Linked DNA regions of Homo sapiens: all the other regions are linked to region 1. The links come from fine-mapping of genetic effects on gene expression. A gene starts in region 1. Each other region holds a variant in brackets. All regions are shown on one strand. Distances are from middle to middle. Region 1 holds the start of IAH1 (isoamyl acetate hydrolyzing esterase 1 (putative)). Region 2 has its middle 2.7 kb from the start of ADAM17. Region 3 overlaps YWHAQ (tyrosine 3-monooxygenase/tryptophan 5-monooxygenase activation protein theta). Region 4 overlaps LOC101929643 (a long non-coding RNA gene). Region 5 overlaps ADAM17 (ADAM metallopeptidase domain 17). Region 6 overlaps LOC105373411 (a long non-coding RNA gene). Region 7 overlaps ASAP2 (ArfGAP with SH3 domain, ankyrin repeat and PH domain 2).

Region 1 (4,068 bases):
TCATGGCAGCACTTCAAAAAAAGGCAAAGTAGCTTCCTACCAGTGTGGTGTAGCAGTGAAACTGCAAGTTCTGCAGTCATAGCAGCTGGACTTGGATCTGTCTGCCCCTGACTAGGGAAGAGGCCTTGGCCATTTCCTTGATTTGTCTGAGTCTACCCAGCCATCAGTGCTCAACCCTAAAATATCTAATTGGTCAGACTGAGTGAAGAGTAAATGTTTTCTGTTCCTTCTCCTATATACTGATTAGGGGAGGCAAGCAAAATTAATAAAGGAGGAATGTTCTGTTCAGAACTATCCTTCATCCATAAGACGGATCCCTAAGACATTTTCCATCCATAAGAACTCAAGTATCGGAAACCATTCTCACCTGACCAGCCTGTCAGCCAGCGATGCTCCCCATCCACCCTGCTGGAAGGAAAACTGGAGGAAGAAAAGCCCATTATTACTACTAATGACTGTAACCGGGCATCTCAGCGAGGGCAGTTCTGATTGGCAACTTCTGTTTTCTCGGCGCTCCCTTCTTGGCTTTGATTGCTTCACTCCAGGAGGTCATTTTGGGGATTACAGGTAAGTACACCTGGCAGCACTTTAGCAGAGGGGGATTTTTCTCTATCAAAAGCTAAACAGCCTGTATTCCCAGCACTTTGGGAGGCCAAGGCGGGCGGATCACATGAGGTCTCGAGTTCGAGACCAGCCTGGTCAACATGGCGAAACCCCGTCTCTACTAAAATTACAAAAATTAGCCCGGTGTGGTGGCGCACGTCTATAATCCCAGCTACTCGGGAGGCTGAGGCAGGAGAAACGCTTGAATCCGGGAGGCGGAGCTTGCAGTGAGCCGAGATCGCGCTACTGCACTCCAGTCTGGGCGACAGAGCGAGACTCCGTCTCAAAAAAAGAAAAAAAGAAAAAAAAAAAAAAGCTAAACAGAAATCTAAGTTCAGGAAATAAAGTCAAAGGTCAGTGAGGAAATGAAGGCCACACCGCCTCACTGCTTTGCTGGTTACCGAGCTGAGGGTGAACACTTTTTCATACACATTCCCATGGAATTCGGCAGCTCTGACTGCCCCATATGCCTAAACATAATGTTACCAGTTACTGGCGTATACACAAAAGCCTGGTGAAGCAAGTCCTGTCTGAGAAGAGGACACACACAGGAATGGAATTTCTACTCCCTCCCCGAAGTAAGAACCTGCATTTAGAAGACCGTTCCCTTCATGGGAGGTGAGATGATCTTGGATGAACGGATGGTCCTTTTCTACCTAATTCCTGAAGGCGTTTTACTTCCAAGGTCAACCCCTAACGGCCCCACCTGTGCCCGCAGGGAATGGGGCGAGAGAGCTCCTGGCGCCTCTGCCCGGAGCTGGCCGCGGGGCCTCCTGGGACACAGCGCGCGGTCGCCCGCGGCCGCTAACCCGGACCCGGAGGGGAAAGGCCGCTGCCCAGGAGGGCGCTGAGGGGAAGACCGCGCATCTCGACCCGGGTGGGAGGCGGCGCGGGGCGGGCAGCGCGGCCGGGTCCCCTCGCGTCTGTGCCTGGAGCCCGGGCTCTCGCGGACGCCGTCGTGACCTCCGGGACGCCGCGGGCCCGGAAGGCGCAGCCACTGGGGGACCCGCCACTCCTCCGGTGTCTCCACGGGCGTGGCCAGGCCTCCGGCCCAGCCGTCTCGGGCGCCGAAGAGGACGGCGAGGAGCCTCGGCCTGCTCGGCAGCGACCCCGCAGGGAGGCCGGGGCGGGAGGCCGAGCGTCGGGGCGGCCGTACCTGGGTGATGGAGTCCCCGAAGAGCAACAAGCGAGGCCAGAGCAGGGCACTCCCGCAGCCCGCGGCCTCGCACAGCGCCATGGAGCAGCCGGGCGGGGCGGGGCGGGGCCGCCAGCCACGAGAGGCGCCTGCGCAGTGGCCGCCCGTGGGTTGCGGGAGCCGGGCTCGTGGGCACCCACGCAGTCACTTTGGTGACGCGCGAAGGTCGTTGCCCCTTGGAGTCCGTTTGCAAGAAGCTCGGCCTCCGCGCTTGCTCACCCACAGCAAGGCTGCCCCCAGGGAGTCCGGAGCCCGCGTCCCGCTGCGTGGTTCCCGGAAGAAAAGCGGTTGGGGGCCCTTCTAAGCCCACCCCGCGCTCCGCGGGCGCAGGTGCGTTCGGCAAAGGGCAGGAGTGTGACCTCAGGACGCGCGGCGGGAAGCACAGCTGGCTCTCGGTGGGGCGGAGGGCTGCTCCAGGCCCCCCTGGAAGAGGTCGTGGGATGCGCGCGCGGCCTCCTGCGCCCAGCGTCACTCTGGAGGGCCTGTAACACCCACGAGGACGCAGGCACTGCGGAAACCCTGGCAGTACCTCGTGGTTCTGCGAATGACAAGGGAAAGCAGCTGCACCTTCAGTGCGCGCGCAGCCGGCCGCTTTTCTTTTTCCCGCCGTGGGGTGGATGCGCAGATGCAGAACCCCGCGGACACGGAGCACTGACTAACTTCCAAGGGATTCACCTGTTAAAACGTGGTTGTAATGCAACGTTCTTACCTCAACTGTGCAATGAAGTTCGGCAGCCGAGCTAAAAACGAACGGGTGGGAAGGATGCCTTGAAATCACGGAGCTGTAGATGAGTAACAGAAGGGCCAGGGGCGCCGGCGCAGAGGCCGACCCCGCTCCCTGGGGCGGGGCGATGGGCGTAGAGCATGACTTTCTTTAGGTTGCTCGTCCCAAGCTCGCTTGGATCACCTGGGGGAGCTTTACAACTAAGATCCAACCTAGGGCCCTCATTCCAGCCGGACTAACTCACCTCCTGGTGGCAGGACTTGGGCACAGGTGCACTTGTGATGCACCCCACGTGATTCCCACGGGTAGCCCAGATTGAGAGCCCCTGCTAGAGCAAGCAAAGGTGCCTGGACTTCATCTTTATCACAAGGACTTCATTAAGGCCTTCAAGCAGCAGAGGCTTGAGGCCAGGTCTGTTCCAGGAATCAGCTATAGGGGAGGAGATGGAGGTGGTTGCAGGAATTCAGAGGGGAGAGTAGACTTGGACTCGAACAGCAGCAGTGGAGATGAAGACAGAAAAGATTCAAGTGCAACTTAGAATCCTTATTATTAACTCAAATTGGTTACCCCAGAGGAGAGGGTAACCAGCAGCGGTTGCTATCGGCAGATCTTGATGGTTTCAATGGGAGCTGCACATACATGCCTGGAAGAAGAATCCAAAATTCTAAAATAATGGGCAGTTGATCTAGTAGTTAGTTCTAGAATAATGGACAAATTAATTAGCAATTTAGCAGTATTCAGGCTGTTGAAATAAAGGCCATTTGACATTAAAAGTAAACAGGCTCCCCCAGAGAAACGAATGCATTTTATTTTAGGTAACAAAAGTAGAGTCAAGTATTTTTTCAAAGTTCATATACAGGCACAGTCTCAGTGAACTGGCGTCAGGGCCTCGTACAGTCTCTGTGCAGCCAGCTCCACCATTTCTCGGAGGGATTCATCGTCTTCACTTCCCTCTTCACATTCTACAGTCTGAAAGTGAGGCACAAACAAGACTGTTAGAATTAAGTCTATAATGATTATATAGAAGATAAATGAATACTCTTTAAAAAAACCATCATCTCATAAAAAATTAGCCAGCTGTGGTGGCGTGTGCCTGTGGTCCCAGATAAGAGTCTGAGGTGGGAGGATCACTGAGCCGGGAAGGTTGAGGCTGCAGTGAGCTGTGACTGCACCACTGCACTCCAGCCTGGGCGGCACTGCGAGACCGGGTCTCAAACTAAAAAAAAGAACAATCATCTGTGTGTGCAGAGGTCATGGTGGGACTGATTACCATGAAACAGAACGGCCGCCCTACACACTTGTGGGCGTGCAGTGCTTCCTGACAGCAGCACGGTCCTAATTAGTGATGACTTGAGGCTGGGGTGAAAGACTGGGGAAAGTCTAGTAAACTACATTTACATCAAAGCCCACAGTTTGATCTAGTAAATGATACTCCAGGGAAGTTCATCTATGCCACACAAATTACTTGGCAAGGAATGGATGTGGCTATCTACTCAACATTTGGTACTGAATTTGACTGAAACTCACTAATAATCTTCTAGTTGCT
Region 2 (4,068 bases), 84 kb before region 1:
CAGGAATTCGAGACCAACCTGGGCAACATGGTGAAACCCTGTCTCTAAAAAAAAAAAAGAAAGAAAGGAGACTTTATAACAATTAAAAAAAATTCCCCCCAAAATCATCTGTTCATCAGTGAGGATCTGCAGATGTCTCTGCTTTGTCCCATGCATATTTGTCATTTTTCTAAAAGGTTGATTTTGCCCGGGCACGGTGGCTTATGCCTGTAATCCCAGCACTTTGGGAGGCCGAGGTGGGCGGATCATGAGGTCAAGAGATTGAAACCATCCTGGACAATATGGTGAAACCCCGTCTCTACTAAAAATACAAAAATTAGCTGGGCGTGGTGGCGCATGCCTGTAGTCCCAGCTACTCGGGAGGCTGAGGCAGGAGAATCACTTGAACCCGGGAGGCGGAGGTTGCAGTGAGCTGAGATCGCGCCACTGCACTCCAGCCTGGCGACAGAGCAAGACTCCGTCTCAAAAAAAAAAAAAAAAAAAAGGTTGATTTTTTCTAAAATGGGTTAAAATTTCTTAACCAAAACCTTAGAAATTAGAGTTCTTGGCACATGACTTTGTATAAAGTCCTATTTTTCATTAAGTGGCATCTGTTGTCTTATTTGTGGGTTGACTCATACTTAAAGCGACTGCTTTCCACAGATTTGTTCATCAGCAAAAAAGCATACAAATGCAGGAATAATTACCATTTTAGAAACAGTGAGGATGGCTCTATCCATCTATAAAAACTGGTGGGGTTGGTGTAAGACAAAATTGGCTAATAAGAGAAATAGAGCTAGAGAAATAGATAGAAGGAAACAAAACACCCAGCCAGAACCAGTTAGTTCTCTGGTCATTTAGACAAGGTTTTACTGGTACTTGTGTGGGTTTGGTAGTTAACTGCAGAACCATATGTGGCTCATGTGTTTAATAACTGCAAATGTTTACTCTTAAATTCACTTGCGGTATCTAAATTATGAATAATTAATTCCACAGCATGGGATTGGGGAACCTCAGGAAATATTTTTAATTATCTTTATTAAATCCTAAATTAAAAGCATCACTTCAGGTGTTAAGAACCCAGGATCCCATCAACTTGTTTACGTATTTTTTTGAACAGATGATAGTGGCTGTGTAACAAATTACCCCTAATTTAGGAGCTTTAGAACCACGAACACTTATCTCCCAGCTTCTGAGGCTGAGGAATCTGGGAGTAGCTTAGTTATAGTCAGATGGTAGGTCAGGGGCTGCAGTGATCTTAAAGCTTGCCTGGGGCTGAATTCCTTCCAAGCTCACTCACATAGTCTTTGGCAGCTCCTTGGTGTTTGTTGGCTGCTGACCTGTTCTATTGGACCTCTCCATAGTTTTCCTGAGTGTTCTCATGACATGAAAGCTGGCTTCCCCCAGAGTGTGTGATTCAAGAGGAAACAAGCAAGCAAGAGAGCACCTGAGATGGAGGACAGAGTTTCTTGTGTCCTAACCTCAGAAGTGACATCACTTCGGCTGCATGCTAGTGGTCACAGACCAACTATGGCCCAGTGTAGAAGAGGAAGCAGGCATCATTGGGGGCCATCTTGGAGGCTGGGCTACCACTGTGGCTGTCAAATCTTTGAGGTATTTATACTCTATTGGAAAACTTTAAAATAATGACCTAACAGCTTTAATTTTAAATGTCAGTATTTATGCTGAAAGTTTCATAATTTGCTACTACTACGCTAATGATGAAAAACTTTAAAGATACACCTAGGGGGTA[T/C]ATAGTTGTTTTTTTTTTTGAGATGGAGTCTCCCTCTGTCGCCCAGGCTGGAGTGCAGTGGCGCTATCTCGGCTCATTGCAACCCCCACCTCCAGGGTTCAAGTGATTCTCCTGCCTCAGCCTCCCAAGTAGCTTGGACTACAGGCACGTGCCACTGCGCTGGCTAATTTTTTGTATTTTTAGTAGAGACGGGGTTTCACCGTGTTAGCCAGGATGGTCTTGATCTCCTGACCTCGTGATCCGCCTGCCTCGGCCTCCCAAAGTGCTGGGATTACAGGTGTGAGCCACCACGTCTGGCCAGGGGGTATATAGTTTTAAAAAATTATTTTGGTGCTGAGTGCAGTGGCTCATACCTGTAATCCCAGCACTCTGGGAGGCCAGGAGTTTGAGATCAGCCTGAGGAACATAGCGAGACTCCACTTCTATAAAAAAAATGTAAAGATTAGCCAGGTGTGGTGGTGCATGCCTGTGGTCCCAGCTACTGAGGAGGGTGAGGCTGGAGGATTGCTTGAGCCCAGGAGGTCGAGACTGCAGTGAGCTGTGATTGTGTCACGGTACTCCATCCTTGGCTGCAGAGCCAGACCGTCTCAAAAGATAAAAGAGCCGGGCGCGGTGGCTCATGCCTGTAATCCCAGCACTTTGGAGGCCAAGGCGGGCAGATCACGAGGTCAGGAGATCCAGACCAGTCTGGCCAACATGGTGAAACCCTGTCTCTACTGAAAATACAAAAATTAGCTGGGCATGGTGGCGCACAACTGTAGTCCCACCTACTTGGGAGGCTGAGGCAGGAGAATCCCTTGAACCTGGGAGGCAGAAGCTGCAGTGAGCCAAGATCATGCCACTGCACTCCAGCCTGGCAACAGAGCAAGACTCCGTCTCAAAAAAAAAAAAAAAAAAAAAAAAAGATAAACTAATTAATCTATCCAGTGCCCCTCTTACCATATTCCTTTGGCTCTTTATCTCCCCCACGTGGTGCTCTTTTATCTTAAAAGTATGCACAATTGATAAATGAAAGATGAACTGCAAATTGGAATAATTTGGGTCCTGATTTGTGAATTGAAAAGATTACTTGAAATTTGGAATGTCCCTGGAAATCTAGGACTTCTGGTTATTCAGGCCAGGCGCGGTGGCTCACGCTTATAATCCTGGCACTTTGGGAGGCCGAGGCGGGTGGATCACCTAAGGTCAGGAGTTTGAGACCAGCCTGGCCAACGTGGTGAAATGCCATCTCTACTAAAAATACAAAAATTAGCTGGGCGTGGTGGCGGGCGCCTGTAATCCCAGTTACTTGGGAGGCTGAGACAGGAGAATCGCTTAAACCTAGGAGGTGTTCAGTCGGTTGTAGTGGGCCAAGATCACGCCATTGCACTCCAGCCTGGGCAATAAGAGCGAAACTCTTTCCCCCACCACCCCCCCCCAAAAAAAAGAAAAGAAAATGGATCGGGATTTTTTTTTTAAACGGCATTTACTAAACAGCTAAGTACCTTCTATGAGCAAGGCACTGTACAAGAGCTGTTGGGGATACCAAAATAATACAATCTACGATCTACTAAAGTTACAAGCCGGACATTATGGTGACTGGATGTTCAGAAAAGAAACCAGATGACATTATTATGGTACACCAAAAAAGCCCCCCAAAAACCGTACTCAACTGTCACATTCTTATGGAATACAATTTTTACAGATTGTATACAATTTGCATGTGAAATTCTGCTTACTTTTTGACTAGGTATGCCACTAATGGGTATGTTTAATAAAGATATTTTATACTTCAGATGTACAGACCAGGTCCGGTTAATTTTAGCCAACAATGTATTGTTGAAAAAGACGCTGATATTTTACTGCGGCAAACCACCATTAACATAAATTTTAACCACAGTTTGAGTATTTTATTAGGAATAAGCCTTGAAACTTGAATAGGACTAGTATTCCTAACAATTTACCGTTTCATAATAAAGGCTGTCTCACTCTTAAGTGGAAAACGTATTATGTCCTACTTTTATAAACTTTGGTTGAACTAAATAAAACAGCAACATGTACCCAACGTTTTTAGACTGTTTTATTCAGTACCATAAACATTCACTAAACTATACAGAGCTAAAATCATGCAAAAGATTGCAAAACAAACTGCCTTGGGAAATTTCCAGTCTAAGCTAAATGGACCAAGTATAGGATTGAATTTTAAGAAGTTGGTGGGAAGATTCCAGCTCTTGTACTCACAGGTAAGGTCCTAGGATTCTATTTGTTGAAGTGTCTGCAGACCCTCTCCCTACAGCAGGGGCGTGGAGCAAATGTGCATTCAGGAAGTGCTTATTAGTCCCCCCAAAACCTTTTTC
Region 3 (4,068 bases), 150 kb before region 1:
CCATAGATAAGTCAGTGATAAATATGATAAATTACTAGATTTGAAACTATTGTTTGCATATTGAGTATTTAAAGACAAAATGATGATAATACCTAGGACTTCAGAGTAATTGGGGGAATACAGATGAAACAGGAGTGTCTATGAATTAATATAGTTGCAGCTGGCTTTAATTGGAATTCATTGTACTATTCTTTGTTCTCCTGTGTACCTTTAAAATTCCCTATTATAAGTTTTTCCTCCCCTAGAAATTCCACTCTTAGGTGTTTACGCAAGAGGGAATGATGCATGGGGCCAAGGCGCATAGGTACAAAAATGTTAATAACAGCTTTATTCTAAGAGCAGAAAACTAGAAATAATCCACTAGTAGGAAAATTGATAAACACTGATGTATTCATAAATGGAATACTATTCAGCATTAAAATGAATGGACCACTGATACTACAATATGATTGAATTTCAAAAACATGCTAGGTGAAAGAAACTTTGCATGAAAAAGTACATAGTGTATGTGATTCCATTTATATGAAATTTTAGAACAAACACAACCTGTTTATGGTAGGAAAAAAAATCAGGAATAATGGCCTCTGTGGGAGAATAGGCAGAGATTGGGAAGGGGCAGGCTTCTGGGATAATTGTATTTTTTTTTTTTTTTAATACTTTAAGTTCTGGGATACAAGTGCAGGACGTGCAGGTTTCTTTCATAGGTATACATGTGCCATGGTGGTTTGCTGCACCCATCAGCCCGTCATCTACATTAGGTATTTCTCCAATGCTATTCCTCCCCTAGCCCCCGACGCCCTGACAGTCCCCGCTGTGTGATGTTCCCCTCCTTGTGTCCATGTGTTCTCATTGTTCAACTCCCACTTGTAAGTGAAAACATGCGGTGCTTGGTTTTCTGTTCCTGTGTTAGTTTGCTGAGAATGATGGTTTCCAGCTTCATCTATGTCCTTGCAAAGGACATGAACTCATCCTTTTTATGGTTGCATAGTATTCCATGGTGTATATATGCCACATTTTCTTGATCCAGTTTATCGTTGATGGGCATTTGGGTTGGTTCCAAGTCTTTGCTATTGTGAATAGTGCTGCAATAAACGTATGTGTGCATGTGTCTTTATAGTAGAATGGATAATTGTATTCTTTAGTTGATATGGGTTTGGGTTTTATACATTTGTCAAAACTCAGCAAATGTACACCCAAGATTTGTGCATTTTGTATGTAAATTTTGCTTTGAAAAAAAACTAGTGATATGCCTGTACTTATGTCTTCAGCTTGTAACTGCTAGAAATGTATGGGTATCTGAAAAAGCAAGTATGGCAAAAGGTTAATGGTAAGATCCAGGTGGTGGATATGTGGGGGTGTTCACTGTAATTGTTGGTTGCCATGTATTGGGGGTTATGATATTTCACATCACTGGTTGAGTGTCTTTAATACATATAGCAAGAAGATAGTGTGTAGCCTGTGTCTTGTTATCCTCAAGATACGAGAATGTATAGAACGGTATTGATCCCCACTTAGGAGACATCACTGGCACCATCACTTTTTTGTTTGGGTGATGAGTGCTAAGTAGATTGATGGAGTTACCAGATGCTGTGTAAGACGTCTTAATTGGCCATACTCTGGGACAGTGGTTCACAAATTTGATCTCAGGACCCCTTTTTAGAAAATAAAATAACTTTAACAAAAAATTGAATGAGAATAGCGGCATTGCATTTCATTCAACCTATTGTAGTATTCCACCTCCTGTAGCTTCTGGAAAACTCCACTTGTGAGAAAATGACAGTGGAAAAAAAGCAAATATCTTAGACTTATGAAAGTGGTTTTACTTTGTCTCCTCTCCACCCCACAAAGGATATAGGGGAGACCTCTAGGGGTTCCCAGACTATACTTTGC[C/T]CTATGAGAATTTAATTACTGAAGTTAATAGTAGAACTGCTGTTCTACGAGAATTTTATTACTGTGTTTGGGTGATTGAGCAGTTTATTTTCTGAGTAGTCATCATATGTGGTGATAATGGAATTTGTAAAACCTTCCCCACCCTTCCCATTTCTCTGCCCCTGCACCCCATCTTATCCCTAGGAATATAGGTTTGAAGACCAGGAAAATCACAGATGTGATAATGAAGAAAGGAGAATAGTTGATATTAGACATTGGGTAATAAAAGTCCCTGTTAATTCCTGGAAACCAGCTAAAGATCTGGTATGTTGGAATGTCTTTCTGCTTTCTTGTGTTGAGAAGGATAATATGAAGTTAATAATCTCTTAACTTGCCCCTCCCAATACCTGACCAAAAAGCAGAGTTGACATCCATGAAAAATATGGATAATGGTCTTTCAGAGCTGGTTGCATTTAAGTTTTAAAAATACACAGCTTTTGGAGGCAGTAAGTCAGGTTAGCTGTTAACCAGCATTGGTCAAAGTATTTATCAGTGAAACTTGTCTTCATACCAACCTTTGATTGTCAGTTTACATGTTTTTCTATCCAGATGAGTAGTATTTCATGATCTCTTTGTCATCTGGATTTTTACTACAGTATCCAGTTGGGTTTGGCACAGTGTGGTACTAAATACATATTCTGTACGATACTCTTCATTTGAACATTCTGTCTCCTGTACCTTTGCTACAGGCTTTACTTAGAGAAATGGAAAAATAATGGTGCAAGTGGTGAGACCATGATGATAAGAACTTACATAAATTTAAATGCTTTCTTAAAGGATGGTCATAGATTGTGAACGTCATGTCGCGGTGATTGGAGGAAATAAATGGAGAAGTGTGTGAAAATGCTTTAAAGCCATAAGCTATATGGATCATCAGATTAGACATTTTATTCCTGAATAACTCTTACTGCTGTTGTTCTTCAATAATTAGTACTCCATTTTCCCTCTTGTTTTGTACATTCCACCAAACATTACTTGAATGCAGCTCACAGGATTTTTGCTCTTAAAAGCTACAGTTGTTAAACCTCTGCAGTTAAACATATTTATACTAGGTGTTCTGATCTTTCAGCCTGGTACTGTTTCCAGTCATTTGGGAATATACTTTTTAGATCTTCAGTGCTAGTGTTTGCCCTCTTGGGATTCTGATGGATAAGAGGTTGGAAAGGTTACATTACGGATTTAAAATACTCTTGATTATTTGGTGCCTGATTGCAGAGACCACCATTTGGAAGGATAGAATATCCCATTAAATATAGCTATGCTCTGTGGAAGTTACTTTTTACATAATTAAATTTTTAATATATTTTTAATTTTTTTACATGTAACTCTTTGTTTTTTTGTGTATGTTTTTTTTTGGTGAGACAAGGTCTCCCTCTGTCTCCCAGGCTGGAATGTAGTGGCACGATCTCAGTTCACTGCAACCTCTGCCTCCTGGGCTGAAGTGCACATATAACATTTAAACATTTAATACCTTTTTTTGGTATTACTGTATTTATTGTTAGGGTTTTTCATGCCTTATTTCTTGCTGTTTTAAATAGTACAGTGTACACTGATGCAGTTTGAATAACTCAGCAGGTAGGATTTAAGGTTGTATACCTCTATTTTGTTGTTGACGATCAGCTGTACATCTCTGGAAGGTGATCCTTCTTATACAGATACCAAAAAGCACTTAGTGATTTATTTTTTGTCCAGGACAGGTTTCTGAACATTTCTGCTTGTAATCAAAATGGCCTGGTAAATGTTTATAAACTTATTTTAGCTATTGATGAAACTACTGTAGTTTTCTTTTAAGTTTATATCAGGATACCAAAGCAACATATTTAGCCCCCACGTCTGTTGAGTCTTTAAAGGACCTACTAAGATTATTAGTATAGATTCTCAAATATTATTTTTTCAGAAGGATGTATTCCTCTTTTTTGCTGTGGTAGTAGAATTTGTAATTAGAGTTTATGGAGAAAAAGGACTAAGGGGAAGGGTGGAGGTCACAAATTTATAAAAGCCCTGAACTATTTCTCATTTAACACGTATTCTCTGATCATTTTTTCTAGTGTGTTATTTTTGTTTGTTGTTTTGAACATCTGAAATAAACATAGGCTGGGCAGGGTGGCTCACACCTATAACCCTAGCAATTTGGGAGGC
Region 4 (4,068 bases), 100 kb before region 1:
CACTCCAGCCTGGGTGACAGGGCAAGACTCCGTCTCAAAAAAAAAAAAAAAAAAAGAAAAAGAAAGAAAGAAAGAAATAATTGGCCGGGCGCGGTGGCTCACACCTGTAATCCCAGCACTTTGGGAGGCCGAAGTGGGCAGATCAGAAAGTCAGGAGATCAAGACCAGTCTGGCCAATATGGTGAAACCCTGTCTCTACTAAAAATACAAAAATTAGCCAGGCATGGTGGCAGGTGCCTGTAGTCCCAGCTACTCAGGAAGCTGAGGCAGGAGAATTGCTTGAACCCGGGAGGTGGAGGTTGTAGTGAGCCGAGATCACGCCACTGCACTCCAGCCTGGGTGACAGGGCAAGACTGTCTCAAAAAAAAAAAAAAAAAAAAAAAAGACACATTTTTCTTCCTGTGACAGCTTACACTTGAGGATGTATAGATAACAATGTTGAAAACTAGAAAAAGTCCCGGGTGCGGTGGCTCACGCTTATAATCCCAGCACTTTGGGAGGCCGAGGCGGGCAGATCACCTGAGGTCAGCCTGGCGAACATGGTGAAACCCCCGTCTCTATAAAAAAAAATAAAAAATTAGCCAGTGTGGTGGCAGGTGCCTGTAATCACAGCTACTTGGGAGGCTGAGACAGGAGAATTGCTTGAACCCGGGGGGCGGAGGTTGCAGTGAGCCGAGATTGTGCCATTGCACTCCAGCCCTGGCAACAAGAGTGAAACTCCGTCTCCAAAAAAAAAGAAAACTAGAAAAAGTTTAAGTCCAACTGAGATTTAACTTCCAGTGTAGCCTGGTTTTCTTTCTCCTGTCAGAGGTATAGAGGAGTTAAAGCACTGAATTAAGCTAGATTAACCTTCACTTTCCTGTGGAAGTGTGTACTGGAAGCTGGCATTCATTGCAAAGATCTCTGCTATTCAGTAATCTTGTGGGCTCTACTCTCCACCATTGTATGGGAGTAACTCAGGTCCTTTAGTCCTTGAAGGAAGCCAGACTATTTGTTTCTCATTTTCTACTGACATTACCAGGTTTTTTACCTATCTGAAATTTGTTCTGAGAGTTCTTTCTCCATTCTAGCCCTGTGGGTCTTTAGATAAGGCTCTGTGTTTCAGCCATGTCGCCATGCCATTCTCCTTGACAGGTGGTGCTTTTTTGGGGGGGGTTGGGGAGGAGGGTAGAGACAAGGTCTCACTATGTTGCCCAGGGTGGTCTTGAACTCCTGGCCTTAAGCAGTCTTCCCACCTCGGCCTCCCAAAGTGCTGGGATTACAGATGTGAGCTACTGTACCCAGCCTGTGTATGTGATGTTCTTTCAGTTATTCCGGAACTTGGTACGCACCTTGGAGGATTCATTGGCAAGATTTTGGAGACCACTGTGTTCTAATACTGGTGGCAACATCACAACTTGGGAGCTAGGAAAATAAATGGGACAAGATTATTAACGCTTTTTGGAGCTAGACTTGTCTATTCCCACAACTATGTAACATGAGAGATTGTGTGATCTAGAGATAGAAAGGACCAGCCAGAAACTGGGTGCAGTGGCTCATGCCTGTAATCCCAGCACTTTGGGAGGCCAAGGCAGGCGGATCACTTGAGGTCAGGATTTCGAGACCAGCCTGGCCAACATGGTGAAACCCCGTTTCTACTAGAAATACAAAAGTTAGCTGGGCATGGTGGCGTGCACCTGTAATCCCAGCTGCTTGGGAGGCTGAGGCAGGAGAATTGCCTGAACCTGGGAGGCGGAGGTTGCAGTGAGCCGAGATCGTGCCACTGCACTCCAGCCTGGGTAACAGAGCGAGACTCCATCTCAAAAAAAAAAGAGAAAGAAAACCAGCCTAGAAGTCAAAGATCTGGCTTCCATGGTCATTCACATACTTGTTAAATATATTGAGCGCTTGTTATGAGTCAGGGACTGAAGTAGGTACCAGAACTTTAAACTTCACTACTTTATAGCTATGGCTTTAATCTCACTGAGTTTCTGTTTTACCTTTTACAGATAAAAGGTGGACAATCTATCTAGCCTGCAAGCCAATGTGTGAAAGTATTTCCAAGTGTAAAGGGCTGTGGAATGTATGTAGTGGAACACTCAAGTGGGAAGGAAGTTAGCAGGATAGCCTAATTTTGGAACTAGAAAGTTCTAATAAAGTGAAACCAGTCTTGTGGATAAGAAAATCAACAACACTGAGCAGACCTATTGCCCTAGATTTTCAAGGGCATAGTCACAAAAAGAAAATGACGGTGTAACTTGGGAATGC[G/T]AAGTTAAAAAAAAAAAAAGACAATTAAGCTGTGGTTTTGCTTCTAATTAGCACTCTCTGATGGAATACAATGGGAAAGGTCATTCTGTTGAAATAAGTAAAGAAAAATCAGGACCCAGAGAACAAGTGCTAAAAGGAAATGCCTTTGACCAAAAACTCAGTCACTTACCAGCAGTTAAGTCTTGACTAAGGAGTTTTGATTCAGTAAGTCTGAGGTAGGGCCCCATAGAGCATTTGTATTTTTAACAAATTGATGCTGATGCTGCTGATCAGGACCTGGTACTTTGAGAACCACTGCTTTAAGGAAGCCTCAATAATGAAGGCCAAAGTAAAGATCGGGTGAGTTTCACAGCAGAGTAGTAAAAATAAGTCAGAGGGCTGGTTGTGTCTGTAGTCCCAGCTACCAGCCACTAGGGAGGCTGAGGTGGGAGGATCATGAGGCCAGGAGTTCAAGGCTACCCTGCACTATGATAGTGCCTATGAATAGCCACTGTACTCCAGCCTGGGCAACATAGCGAGACCTCATCCCAAAAAATAAAAATAAGTCAAAGGATTTTGGGTCTGAGTCCAGCACAGTGTTGAAATCTGTGCCCGAGGGTCTTCCTCTTCACCAACTGAAATTAATCGGGATATATATATATGTAACAGCATAGGTGGCTCGTGTTAACTCTGTCCCCACCCCCTTTATTTAGTCACTGCCCATGTTGACTCTTTTGTATTAAAGTAAAAATACAGTTTTATTCAAATCCTGACCAGATAGATTTCGTGATGTGAAAAGATGCCAATGAGATGAGTTTGAGAACTGGTCCTTAAGGTCTGTAGTAAAGAGGCCAGGGATCTGACTGGCAGAGAAATATGAGGTCAGACATCTGCATTTAGTATTCATGTGAGGTCAGTGTTGATGGAGATTAGCCTAAAGCTTGAGACAGGAAACCAGGGATATATACAGAGGATGGGCAGGAGGCTCAGCAACTTGTTTGGGCATCATGTGAGCTGGCTAATGGTTGTAAAGGTCAGGTGAGTCAAAGTAAGAACCCAACTGTCCTATTGCAAGTTAGAGCATTTGAGTTCATTCCCTCTATTCCTCTTCACTGGTCCCTCCAGTTTCTACATGGTTGATTTAAAGCAAACATGAAAAAGCTTTCACTCTTTTTTTAAAGACATAATAGTAATAATATGTAGGCATTTAGTATTGTGTTGATGCATTTCATTTGTTTTTAGGGTTCAGGGCTGTAGAGAAAGAATCAGCAGAAAACTATTTCAGGCCAAACCACAAGTGTTTCTTGCAGGGGAACAGATAACCTGAAGTGATCTCTGCAAGTCTTGCTTAAATTTCCAGTAGATGGCATAGTGAAAAGGGTAGAGAAGTAGCATTTTAGTCTTTGTTGGCCATTTCCAATCCTGTGTTTGGCAGCAAAGCATTTGAAGACATAAAAGAGTTGGCCTTGCCTCTCAAGTTTATAGTGTGGGGAGACAAAATGAACACATGGGACATCACACACGCTAAAACTCAATGCCCGTTCCATGGCGGCAGCTCAGATGCAATCCAGGAATGAAACATACACAGTTTGTAAAGAGAACTGTCAGTTTCAGAATGGGAGAAGAGTGCATCCTGGAGGAACGCGTAAGAAGTAGGATGATTCAAATAGCATAGTATGTTGTCCAGGAGTTTTTTTTAACCACCTGCTACTAGGAGTTCCCAAAGTAATAGGAACTTCCTTAGATGGTTGTTAATGAAGGGAAATGAAGTCAGATGTCTCTGGATTTGAATCTTGACTCTTCATAGTTGAGTAACTTTGGACAAGTCCCCTAATCTGTAAA
Region 5 (4,068 bases), 41 kb before region 1:
TATTCTTAGTTCTCATGTTCTCTATGGTCTTCTGTGCATGTTGCTTCTAAAGAATCTGAAGTCATTTTGAGTTCTTATCTTTGTTTGTCACCTGTTTTTTTCTCTGGAATATCTTAAGATCTTGTTTTTCTCCAGCTATGTCTGTTAAAATGTGTTTGACTACAAATAACAGAAAATTAAATAAGCAGTGGTTTAAATAAGGGGTTTATTTGTCTCAGTCAACAAGAAGTTCAGGGATAGCATTTTCTGGGTGGTACAGCAACTCAGAGGTACCCTCAGTGGCTCAAGAACAAGCAGGAAGTCTTTGTCCTCATGGATGTCACCTCATGGTTTTAAGATGGTTCTCTTCTGTGTTGGAGAAAGGAGGAGAAAGAGAACATGGCTAGCCTAGTCTGGCCCTTCTAAAAAGCTTCTCTGGAGGCCCCATCCTGGCTTTTGTTTATATGTTACTGGACAGCACTGGGTCCCGTGGCTGCCCTTAGCCTCAACGGAATGTGGAAAGCTGGCTATTTTAGCTGAGTATATTGCTGTCCTGGGCAAAATTAGGGCTCATTAAGTAAGGAAGAAGGGGAGAGAGATGTTGGTAGGACATATTAGTATCTGATATACTGATTTTTAATTTTTATTTAATTTTTATTTTTTTTGAGACAGAGTCTTGCTCTGTGGCCCAGTCTGGAGGGCAGTGGCACCATCTTGGCTCACTGTAACCTCTGCCTTCTGGGTTCAAGCAGTTCTCCTGCTTCAACCTCCTGAGTAGTTGGGATTACAAGCACCTGTCACCACGCCTGGCTAATTTTTGTATTTTTGTTTTAGAGACAGGGTTTCACCATGTTGGCCAGGCTGGTCTCATGAACCCCTGACCTCAAGTGATCCACTCACCTTGGCTTCCTAAAGGGCTGGTTGGTATACTGATTTTTTGACTATGATGTTATACTTGGTGTAGGGTATGGGAAAACATTTGCAAAAGACACATCTGAGAAAAGACTGCTATCTGAAATATACAAAGAGGCCGGGCATGGTGGCTCATTCCTATAATCTTCGGCACTTTGGGAGGCCGAGGCAGGAGAATCACTTGAGCCCAGGAGTTTGAAACTAACCTGGGCAAGATGGTCAGACCCTGTCTCTACAAAATTAAAAATAAATAAATAAATAAAAATTTCCATATGTATAAAGAACTGTTAAAATTCAACAATAAGAAAATGAACAACCTAATTTAAAAACAGACAAAAGAGCAGAACAGATACCTCCAAAGATATACAGATAGCAGAGAAGCATATGAAAAGATGCTCAGCGTCATATGTCATTAGGAAATTGCAAATTAACAATGAAGCTGGTTGTAGGGGTACATGCCTGTAGTCCCAGTTGCTTGGGAGGCTGAGGTGGGAGGATTGCTCGAGCCCAGGAGTTTGAGACCCATCCTGGGCAACATTAGTGAGATCCTATTTCTATAAAAAACTTTAAGAAACCCAACAACAATGTGCTATTACTAGTAGCTTATTAGAATGGCTAAAATCCCAAACACTGGCAACACAATTCCAACAAGGCTATGGAGCAACAGGAACTCTCATTAATTGCTAGTGGGAATGCAAAAATGGAACAGCCACTTTGGAAGGCAGTTGGCAGTTTCTTTTCTTTTTCTTTTTTCTTTTTTTTTTTTTTTTGGAGACGGAGTTTCACTCTTGTCACCCAGGCTGGAGTGCAATGGCGCCATCTCGGCTCACTGCAACCTCTGCCTCCCAGGTTTAAGCAATTCTGCCTCAGTCTCCTGAGTAGCTGGGATTACAGGTGCCCGCTGCCACTCCCAGCTAATTTTTGTATTTTTAGTAGAGATGGGGTTTCACCATGTTGTCCAGGCTGGTCTCGAACTCCTGACCTCAGGTGATCCGCCTGCTTCAGCCTCCCAAAGTGCTGGGATTACGGGTGTGAGCCACTACGCCCAGCCATAAGAATGTTTATGGCAGCTTAATTCATAATTGATAAAACTTGGAAGCAACCAAGATATCCTTTAGTTGGTAAATGGATAAACTGGCACATCCATAAAATGAGAAAAAAATAAAAAGCTATTAAGCCATGAAAAGACATAGAGGAACCTTAAAAGCATACTACTAAGTAAAATAAGCCAGTCTGAAAGGCTACATACTATATGATTCCAAATATATGACATTCTAGAAAAGACAAAACCATGCAGACTATAAAATGATCAGTGATTGCTAGATGCTGGGGGAGGGAGGGATGAATAGGTGGAGAGCAGGGTAATTACTCTGTATGATACTTCAACAGTCAGTATAAGACATTATGCATTTGTTGAAACACATAGAATATACAGCACAAAGAGTGGACCCTAACATAAACTGTGGACTTTGGGTGATTTAAAAACAGGTGGTGGCAGGAGCCTATAGTCCCAGCTACGC[G/A]GGAGGATCACTTGAGGCCAAGAGTTAGAGGCTGTAGTGTGATAAATGCAACTGTGAATACCCGCTACATTCCAGCCTGAGCAACTTAGCGAGATCCTCCTTTTCTTTTTTGAGATGGAGTCTCGCTGTGTCTCCCATGCTGGAGTGCAATGGCATGATCTTGGCTCACTGCAAGCTCTGTCTCCTGGGTTCATGCCATTCTCTTGCCTCAGCCTCCCAAGTAGCTGGGACTACAGGCACCCCCACCACCACGCCCGGCTAATTTTTTGTATTTTTAGTAGAGACGGGGTTTCACTGTGTTAGCCAGGATGGTCTCAATCTCCTGACCTTGTGATCTGCCCGCCTTGGCCTCCCAAAGTGTTGGAATTACAGGCGTGAGCCACCGTGCCTGGCCTGAGACCCTGTCTCTTTTTATTTATATATATATATATATATATATATATATATATATATATATATATATATATTTATATTTTAAATTTAAGTTCTAGGATACATGTGCACAACGTGCAGGTTTGTTACATATGTATACATGTGCCATGTTGGTGTGCTGCACCCATTAACTCGTCATTTACATTAGGTATATCTCCTAATGCTATCCCTTCCCCCTTCCCCCTCCCCCCACCCCACGACAGGCACCGGTGTGTGATGTTCCCCTTCCTGTGTCCAAGTGTTCTCATTGTTCAATTCCCACCTTTGAGTGAGAACATGCGGTGTTTGGCTTTTGTCCTTGCGATAGTTTGCTGAGAATGATGGTTTCCAGCTTCATCCATGTCCCTACGAAGGACATGAACTCATCCTTTTTTATGGCTGCATAGTATTCCATGGTGTATATGTGCCACATTTTCTTAATCCAGTCTATCATTGTTGGACAATGTTGAACAATAATGTAGAGTGGTATGAGAAAAGAAAAAGACACTAATTAGCTTTTGGGAATCTTTTAATTTCTTTTTTTCTTTTCTTTTTTTTTTTTTTGAGATGGAGTTTTCTCTTGTTGCCCAGGCTGGAGTGCAATGGTGTGATCTTGGCTCACTGCAACCTCCGCCTCCCGGATTCAAGCAATTCTCCTGCCTCTTTCTCCTGAGCAGCTGGGATTACAGGCATGCGCCATCACGACCAGCTAATTTTGTATTTTTAGTAGAGATGGGGTTTCTTCATGTTGGTCAGGCTGGCTCTCAGGTGATCCGTCTGCCTCGGCCTCCCAAACTGCTGGATTACAGGCGTGAGCCACCGTGCTTGGCCTTAATTTCTAAATTTATTTTTTTCTTATGGTACTTTGTTTTAGGGGAAAAAATCTCTCAAACTGTGTTTTCCCTCTATTCTCACATCACAACCATCATCATCAACACAGAAGACTTGTGTGACCAGACCAAACGTGTGGGGATTTCCCCCTACATATCAAGCAGTAGACATCAGCTAGGTGTCCTCCAATTCAATTCAAACACTCTCCACCCGGAAATAGTATCAGATCTCACAGTTTGAGGGCCCAGTCCCACAAGACTGACTGTTCCCTCCTCCCCACCAGTTACAAGTCTGAGCCTCCAGAACTTCTGACCAACTGGCTTCAAGTTGGGGTTTCCACATTCTCCTCTTTGGGTCTGATTAATTTGCTTAAGTGGCTCACAGAACTCAGGGAAAAGCTTAACTTAGTTTATGG
Region 6 (4,068 bases), 880 kb after region 1:
AGACCCTCGAGAGGAAATGGGTTTGGTGGGAGGGTCTGAGTTTGGAGGGCTTGGAGAACTGTGGAGGTAAAACCGAGCACAGCTGGAGCGGGGTACTCTTGTCAGAAAGCAAGGGGCTTTGGGACAAGTTATCCAAAGCCAGGGGCGGCTCCCCACTTGCTGGGAACGCATAGCATTCTCTCGGGCTGCTGATGCTGGGCCTGGCTGTGGAAGGGGCCCCGTCCTGGGCCTCTGTTCAGAGGGTGTGCAGGAGGCCCTGTGGAGAGTGCTGGGCCGAGGGGCTGCAGTGCTGAAGTCACGCCCGGATGGGATTCCTGCAGCTCTGACTGGGGCTTTCCACCTGGGGCACCAGGGGCAAGCCCCGCCCCTTTGGGTGGCATCTCCCTGGGAAGGGACAGGCATGGTGGGCCTGCCCCAGACCCTTCCCTCTCTGACCGTCTGGCCTTCTCACCGGGGTTCAGACCCTGGGCTCCTCCCACCTGTGCCCCTGCCTTTGCCTTCTGGACTTTGTGTCTGCTTGCGCCCAGGCCCTCCCCTTGCCCCAGTGGACTTGGGTCTGGCTTCTCCCACATGGTGGCCTCTAGGAGCACCTGTGGCCCATTTTTAGCCCTCTGAACCCAACCCTTCCCACCAAGCTGCCCCAGCGTCCCCGAGGGGGCAGCAGACATGCCTTTTTCTGGTTAATCCTCCGGAGGGGACATGGGCAGGATATTTTCCTACAAACCAGCTGACCTGTATGCAGGTGAGGCTTCCTCAAATCCTCTAGCCCCAGTGATGGACCGGCGGCCGGAAGACTGAGGTGGGATCCTCGGAAGGCTTCCAGGAAGTGGTAGAAACGTTTCCAGAAAGGTTTAATTGTTCTTAGAGGCCACATCTTCCTCGTCTTGGAGATGGCGCCGCAGCCCTGGCTGTCTCCCAAACTAGAGAGCAGAGAGTCCTGCTTCCAGTCGCCGTCACTTAAGCCCGACATCCTCCTGCAGCCCAGTCCTGGTTATTCTCCCCAGTGACCTTTCCAGCCTCTACTCTGCTCCCACTCCCACCACCTGGGCTCAGGCCTTCACTGTGTATTGTATATTCGTTGTATATTGTATATTCGTCATGGATTTTATATTCTATATTGTAGAGCCATTGCATGTTGTATTCTCATCGTATGTTGTATACACACCGTGTGTTGTATATTCATTGCATTTTGTCTATTACATGTTGTATGCTAATCATCTGTTGTATACTCATCCATTGCATATTCATATTTCATATTCCTTGTATATTGTATATTGCAGACTCATATATTGTATATTTACATGTTGCATCCATCATAATTGAAGACTCATTGTATATGTCCATATGTTGCATATTCATCATGTTGCATACTCATGTTACATATTCATCATGTTTTGCATATTCATGTGTTGCATATTCATCCTATGTTGCATACTCAAGTGTTGCATATTCATGTGTTGCATGCTCATTGTATATTGCATGCTCACTGTACATTGTATAATCATCATATGTTGCATATTCATCTTATGTTGCATACTCGTCGTATATTTCATACTCACTGTACATTGCATATTCTTTCTTTTTTTCTTTTTTTTTGAGACAGAGTCTCTCTCTGTCACCCAGGCAGGAGCACAGTGGCACGATCTCAGCTCACTGCAACTTCTGACTCCCAGGTTCAAGCGATTCTCATGCTTCAGCCTCCCAAGAAGCTGGGACTACAGGTGCGTGCCACCATGCCCAGCTAATTTTTTTATTTTTAGTAGAGATGGGGTTTCACCATGTTGGCCAGGCCGGTCTCAAACTCCTGGCCTCAAGTGATCCACCAGCCTCGGCCTCCTAAAGTGCTGGGATTACAGACGTGAGCCACCACGCCCGGCTAATATTGTACACTCATCATATGTTGCATAATCCTCCTAGAGTGACTCACAGTGATGCAACAGGACTCCTGCGTGATGTCTTCCTATCAGGTCTCACTGTCTCCAAGTCAGCCCCCATGTCTCGTCCCAGTGCTGACTGTCCCATCTCCTGCTCTGTTTAACGGCCTCCTTTAGCCTAAGGGCCCTCTGCTGGGCCTTGTCCCCCAGCTTCCTCTCCTGCCTCTGTCACTCCTCCCTGGTTCGTGTGGCCCTTGGTGATGCCTGGCGGCCTCACTCTCCCGGCTTTACCAGTGCCTCTCTCTCTCTGCTGGGACCTGCCATTCCCACATTTTGGATCAGCCCCCAGGTACTTTTTGGAAACTAGCAATTGAGTAGTATGTCATGGGTTGCAGAGCCCCTCTGTGGACTTGACTGCTGTCCAGGGACTGCTTGTTATAATAGCATCTGAGTGTGCGAGTGGAATAAGGCCAAGAGAGGGTGAGTGAACAGCCCAGGGTCACATAGCTCCTAAGAGTTCAGCTGGGCTCTGACCTGGCTGCTCCGTGTCCTGAGCCAGGGCATTTCCATGCCCCTGCGC[C/T]ACCCCCATGGGATCCACTGACAGTTCTGCATTCATGGTCCTTGATTGTGGAACTGGATTTGCCCTCTGCCCCTCACTAATCAGCTAATTGCTGTCAGCCTTAGTCGGCCTGTGGTCCCTGGGGCTTACCTGGTTTTCCGTGGAGCCCTAACCCAACTGATCTCACTTCAGCTCTGCCTTTGATGGGGCGGTGGCAGATGGGAGGCAGATCCCTTCTGGTCCTTGCGAACCTGCCCCTATGTTCGAGAGGGCACAGGCTCAGGAGAGGGGTTTCCCTGGTCCCCATCCTGCTGTGCACTGGCCAAGACTTGGAATCCACACCCCAGTCCTGCTCTCTGCAGGCTTCCTCAGCATATCACAGGCACAATGGTAGCAGGCTCACACACACACACACACGCTCATACACATGGCACACACTCACACGCAAAGAGCCACACAGGGCCAACATGCTCACACACACTGTGTAAGTGTGCATGAGTGCACACACACCACACATGCAAACACACCACACATACAACACATACATATACACACCACACATATACACACACACCACACCACACATTACATACACCTACCACACACACCCCACACATACACACCACATATATACACACACACACCATACCCACATTACATACACCTACAACACACACCCCACACACACACACCCCACACCACATGTATACACACACACCACACTGCACATACATTACATACACCCACCACACACCCCACACATACCCCACCCATACACACATACCACACCACACATGCACATTACATACACCTAACCACAGACACACCATACACACCACACCACACATACACACCACACATATACACACACCACATCACACACACACATCACAGCACACAACACACACACCCCACATACACCCACACCACACACACCCCACACATATACACACACCAGACCATATATGTACCACATCACACACATATATCACCAACACCTACCACATATCATACACCACACATATACACACACACACACACACAACACACATACCGCACATACACCACGCAAACACCACACACATACACACATACCACATATACCTGCCACACACACCACACACAGAAACAGACACTACACCACACCACACACACACCACACCACACCACACATACACCTGCCACACACACACCACACAAACATAGACACCACACATATACACACACACCACACCACACACACCATACATACACACCACACATATACACACACACACACCACACACACAATATACACCACATTCATTCATGCCCTTCCCACACCGCATGTGTACACCACACACACACACACACACACACACATACCCCATACCACACATTCCCTCACACACACACACACACACCCCTAAGTGCACACACACTTACAAACGGTCTGCATGTTCACACACACTCGCACTCCTCTGGTCACACATTGGCCCAGGAAACAGGAACCCCTGGCGGGTTCCCAGGCAGCCTCCGCCCTGCCAGGCTCCAGGGTTCCATTCTGAGGGCCCATCGTTAGCCCGGGCAGCCGGGTGTCAAGATACCCAGGTCACTTCCTAGCAGACTAGTGACTGTGTGGCCGGGGCATCCCTG
Region 7 (4,068 bases), 210 kb after region 1:
TACACAGGGAGAAAAAAACTCTGGAAGAGGCAAAGGACTTAGTTATAGCGCGCACCTAGATGAGGAGAGAAGACGGTGACAGGAGACTGAGTTTTCGCTATCACCTGAAAACTTTACCACAAGGATATATTCACGTATGACTTGCATGGGAAAGATTAATAAATGATGAGCGAGAAGACAGCTCTGGGTGTACAGAGGAACAGCACATGAATACAGCCTGCTGGGCTGAATCACTGTCTCCAACACCCTGTGCATCAGCCACAGTGGCCGTCAGAGCTGGGGACTCATAATGAGAACAGCAGAGGCCCGGACACACTGGAAATGCCATCCAAGGAAGGAAGGTTCCTGATGGGGAAGGGGACAGTGGTGACGCCAGCACGGGCCCCCCCAGTCTCTGGAAGACATGCCTGCAGAAGCAAAACCTTTTCCCAAGGCCAAATACTAAAATATACCTCCCTCCTTCCCCACAAGTTGTTTCTGCAAAGAAGTTCCAGCAGTACTTGTGTTTATTATTATTATTATTATTATTATTATTTTTTTGAGACAGGGTCTCACTCACTGCCCAGGGTGGAGTGCAGTGGTGTGATCTTGGCTCACTGCAACCTCTCTTTCCAAGGCTCAAGTGATCCTCCCACCTCAGCCTTCTGAGTAGCTGGGACTACAGGTGCATACCACCATACCTGGTTAATTTTTGTATTTTTAGTAAAGATGAGGTTTCCTTAGGTTGGCCAGGCTGGTATTGAACTCCTGACCTCAACTGATCCGCCCGCCTTGGCCTCCTAAAGTGCTGGGATTACAGGTGTGAGACACGGCACCTGGCCTTCTAGCAGTACTTTTAAAAGGGAAAAAAATGGAGAAAAAAATACTTAACCTATTATAGAAGAACCAGGCAAACTGTGCCCTCAGCTGATGACCTCCAGACGGCCGTCAACTGTGCCTGAAGTGGACGGTGTCATGCGGTATGAACAGATAAGTGAGAAAAGAACCCATGTAGCTCTAAACCCACACACACTATGAAAAAACGACGCATGAACAACGAGAGGCTGCAGCCTCCTGCAGTTTAAGGAAGCAGCGCCCACAGGCACTCCCGGGAGGTCTGTGCCTCGGAGGCTTCGGTGGGAGCGCCCCATGGCTTTCATGGGCTTCGCCAGGATCCCTATCTTAGAGAAACGGAAACAGATGACAGTAAACTCCAATTCTGTCAAAAGGCTTCACATCCTGACTTTTATTTAGGGGGAAGAAAAGTCCTAGAGACTTTTCTGGGAGCTCTGGGGGAGTGAGAAAGGAAAAGCCACATTTTGGCAAGATCACCACTGCACAGCAGCAGCACAAACACGGCAGCGTGGGGCAGCTCTGGGCAGGACCCCCCCAGCCAGCCTGGTGCCCTGCTTTGGGGAGAGCCACAGTGGCACAAGGGGGCCTGGCCTGGGGTTCCCTGACACCCACATTACTGAGCTGTGGCCCCTGGGAATGGCAGGAGAGCAGACTCGAGGTAGAAAATGGACTAGCTCAGGAAAAGAATCACAAACAAGAGGGGACATGACACCAGAAGGTGCTGGGCACATTACTGACAGGCAGCAGGGACACCGAGACAGTGGAAAGCCAGCATGCAGCCACGGCCTGGGCCAGGCCCTCCAGCCGTGGCGATGCAGAAGGCAGCCGAGCTCAGAGTCTGGGAAGGTGACCTTCAGCTGGGCGTGAGGTCAGCCTTCCACATCTTCCCAGTCCCAGAAGACAATGGAATCCTAAGCCAGGCTGATTTCCCCAGGAAACGAGGCTCAAGCCACATGAACTTCACTTTAGTCAAATAAACAGGGGAGAGGAGATGTAAGATAGCCGAGTTTTCTTTCTGAACCCCGCGTGAAAGAGACTGAGGACTTTGATTCCTGAGGCCATGGAGGTCAGCCTGGAGACGCCATCATCACACCGTGTGCTGGGGCTTCTGTCCCAGTCGGCATGCCAGGCTCTGCCATCCAACTGGGCTGCCACTGCTGTCCACTAGCGGTCACATTTGTGTGCTGTGTTCCTTTAAAAAGTACACCTTGTGACTGTGAACAGAGGCTTTAAGGAATGGATGCATTAAAAATGAGAAAACCCAGTGCTGGATCCCTTTGGAGACAAGTGCATCAGTTACAAATCACTGGTTCTGGATTCTGGAATGAGACTGACTTGGTTCTAAACCAGGCTCCAATTACTAGCCGC[G/A]TGACCTCAAAAACGGACTCCACCTCACTGACTTCTGTTTCTTCATCTATAAATTGGGAATAACAATACCTGCCTCACAGGAGATCACCAATGCTTATGTGTCTGCCATACAGTCAGCACTCAATATCTAATAGTGATTACCAGTGTCCTCCAGTTCTCGGAGAGGCTAGGTGTAAACTACGCCAATTAAAGTGGCCGTTAAGAAGACGCTGTTACCCCAGGACCGTCTCAGTCATTACGACAAATACTTTTCAGGTCTGATAATGTTTAGAATGAGAAAAAAATCTCTAAGAACAAAAAGACTTTACAGCTTATACCAGCCTTTCATTTCCACTAATACATTTTTTTTTCCATCAACATTTAAATTTTTCAAAACTTCATACAGGCATGATGGCACGCGCCTATCATTCCCAGCTACTGAGGAGGCTGAGGCAGGAGGATCGCTTGAGCCCAGGAGTTTGAGTCCAGCCTGGGCAACGTAGCAACACCCTGTCTCTAAAAACATTGTTTTTCAAAACTTTTCCTGGTGTGCTCAGGTGTTTCTGACTCCCCACGGGGAGGGGCACATGGCAAATGGTGGGGTGAGGCGCTCTGGTCCAACTGGCCTCTCTCTTGAACACTGAGGGTTAAAGGAGCAGGGCATGAAACCCCAGGTCTTAAGTGCAGGGGTGAGTAGGAGTGGCCACCGGGGTGTCCACCCATCCCCTCCTCACCTACCCTGACTGAGGTAACCCCAGGTCTGCCCCTCTCCCACCTGGGACACCACCAGCGGGGCCTCTCCCCTGCATGTGGCAGTCCAGCCAGAAGGAACTCTGCCCCCTCCCTCCTACACTCGGCCACACTGTTAAAGGTTGGGGGCAGCACTGGGCAACCTCCAAAGCTCCCAAAGTGCTCCCAGGGAAAGAAAGGCCTACTGTGCCACTCAGCTCAGCTCACTAGCATTTGAGATAAATACTTTTAAGTTACCAAGGCAGCAGTAGGTGTGTACTCTAAAATCACACCTAGGGCCCAACTCCAACTACCATACAGCAATTTACACTCCACAGAGCACTTTTACTTCCATTATCTTTACTGCAATATTTACAACCACTTGTGAAATCACCACCTCTTTCCCCAGCTTAAAGGAGAAGAAACTGACTCAAAGAGTTTAAGTGACTTGTCCAAAATCATGTGTTTGGCTTTGAACCGATGAAATGCTGGGAGAGCTCCAGCCAATGGAGGGAGGACGGAAGGCAGCTTCCAGAGCTGTGCTCCCCCTCCCACTTCCCAACAGCCTCACTTCCAGAGCCAGAAGCGCTGGCTTTCTCTAACATTTGGGGAAAATAACCACCCGGCATTACCCCTGCTTTCTCTAAACCCTGTTCCACTAACCCCAGCCCAGCTACAGGCAAGGGGGCTGCTACTTCCACACCAAGAGTGCTGTCCACCCCTTCACCAAGAAAGCTGCCAGTGGCTCTCCTCCACACAAGCCAGCTCCTGCCACCCCAAGGGGCTGTCATACGGCTCCCAGCACACTAGCATTTGAAGTTCACCAGGGGCACAAGAATCTAAAGTTCACCAGGGACACAGGCACAACCCCCCTAACCACCCTGGGTAACCAATTCCTTGTTTCAGAATCTTCTGAAGGGCCAGGGTGGCGGAGAAGCAGATAGAGTAGGGGCAGGGTCATCATTTGCATGTGTCCAGGTTACACAATCCGGGGCTCTTCCTGGGCTTTTCAGAGGGAAAATTAAAACCCTGCTATCTTTAGTCTTTCATTTCTCCATCTTCAACTTCTCAGTTCCTGTTTCCCATCCAAAAGACTTGACCCCATTCCCCTATGGTAGAATGGGAAGCAGGGAGGAGAAAAACCCAGAATAGGGAAGG

The links. PIP is the estimated chance that this variant, and not a neighbour inherited with it, causes the effect.
Region 2: its variant is fine-mapped to the expression of IAH1 in whole blood (TOPMed, PIP 0.98).
Region 3: its variant is fine-mapped to the expression of IAH1 in blood mononuclear cells (TOPMed, PIP above 0.99).
Region 4: its variant is fine-mapped to the expression of IAH1 in whole blood (TOPMed, PIP 0.96).
Region 5: its variant is fine-mapped to the expression of IAH1 in whole blood (TOPMed, PIP above 0.99). The same link has a PIP of 0.9 or more in lymphoblastoid cells.
Region 6: its variant is fine-mapped to the expression of IAH1 in testis (GTEx, PIP above 0.99).
Region 7: its variant is fine-mapped to the expression of IAH1 in whole blood (TOPMed, PIP 0.94).

The regions. Positions count from the first base shown.
Region 1 is chr2:9,472,339-9,476,406 of GRCh38, reverse strand. IAH1 (isoamyl acetate hydrolyzing esterase 1 (putative)) reads right to left here and starts at 1,856. Exons shown (of 6, transcript NM_001039613.3): 1 at 1,760-1,856; 2 at 368-420. The coding sequence starts at 1,840. CPSF3 (cleavage and polyadenylation specific factor 3) reads right to left here. Exons shown (of 18, transcript NM_016207.4): 18 at 3,306-3,491. The coding sequence ends at 3,390. RefSeq lists enhancers at 237-797, 1,278-2,045 and a silencer at 1,315-2,084.
Region 2 is chr2:9,556,477-9,560,544 of GRCh38, reverse strand. No RefSeq gene overlaps it. Among named protein-coding and RNA genes, the nearest start is that of ADAM17, 2.7 kb to the right of the region's middle. RefSeq lists silencers at 3,791-4,068, 4,057-4,068. The variant T/C (reference allele first, on the strand shown) is at 1,733.
Region 3 is chr2:9,618,767-9,622,834 of GRCh38, reverse strand. The region is part of intron 2 of YWHAQ (tyrosine 3-monooxygenase/tryptophan 5-monooxygenase activation protein theta); the gene reads left to right. Among named protein-coding and RNA genes, the nearest start is that of YWHAQ, 10 kb to the left of the region's middle. The variant C/T (reference allele first, on the strand shown) is at 1,891.
Region 4 is chr2:9,572,651-9,576,718 of GRCh38, reverse strand. It overlaps LOC101929643 (a long non-coding RNA gene), which reads right to left. Exons shown (of 3, transcript XR_922777.3): 3 at 1-1,404. Among named protein-coding and RNA genes, the nearest start is that of ADAM17, 19 kb to the right of the region's middle. The variant G/T (reference allele first, on the strand shown) is at 2,248.
Region 5 is chr2:9,513,329-9,517,396 of GRCh38, reverse strand. All of the region lies in intron 10 of ADAM17 (ADAM metallopeptidase domain 17), which reads left to right. Among named protein-coding and RNA genes, the nearest start is that of ADAM17, 40 kb to the left of the region's middle. The variant G/A (reference allele first, on the strand shown) is at 2,412.
Region 6 is chr2:8,596,337-8,600,404 of GRCh38, reverse strand. LOC105373411 (a long non-coding RNA gene) reads left to right here. Exons shown (of 3, transcript XR_001739274.1): 3 at 1-1,536. Among named protein-coding and RNA genes, the nearest start is that of LINC01814, 15 kb to the right of the region's middle. The variant C/T (reference allele first, on the strand shown) is at 2,455.
Region 7 is chr2:9,260,663-9,264,730 of GRCh38, reverse strand. All of the region lies in intron 1 of ASAP2 (ArfGAP with SH3 domain, ankyrin repeat and PH domain 2), which reads right to left. Among named protein-coding and RNA genes, the nearest start is that of ASAP2, 56 kb to the right of the region's middle. The variant G/A (reference allele first, on the strand shown) is at 2,203.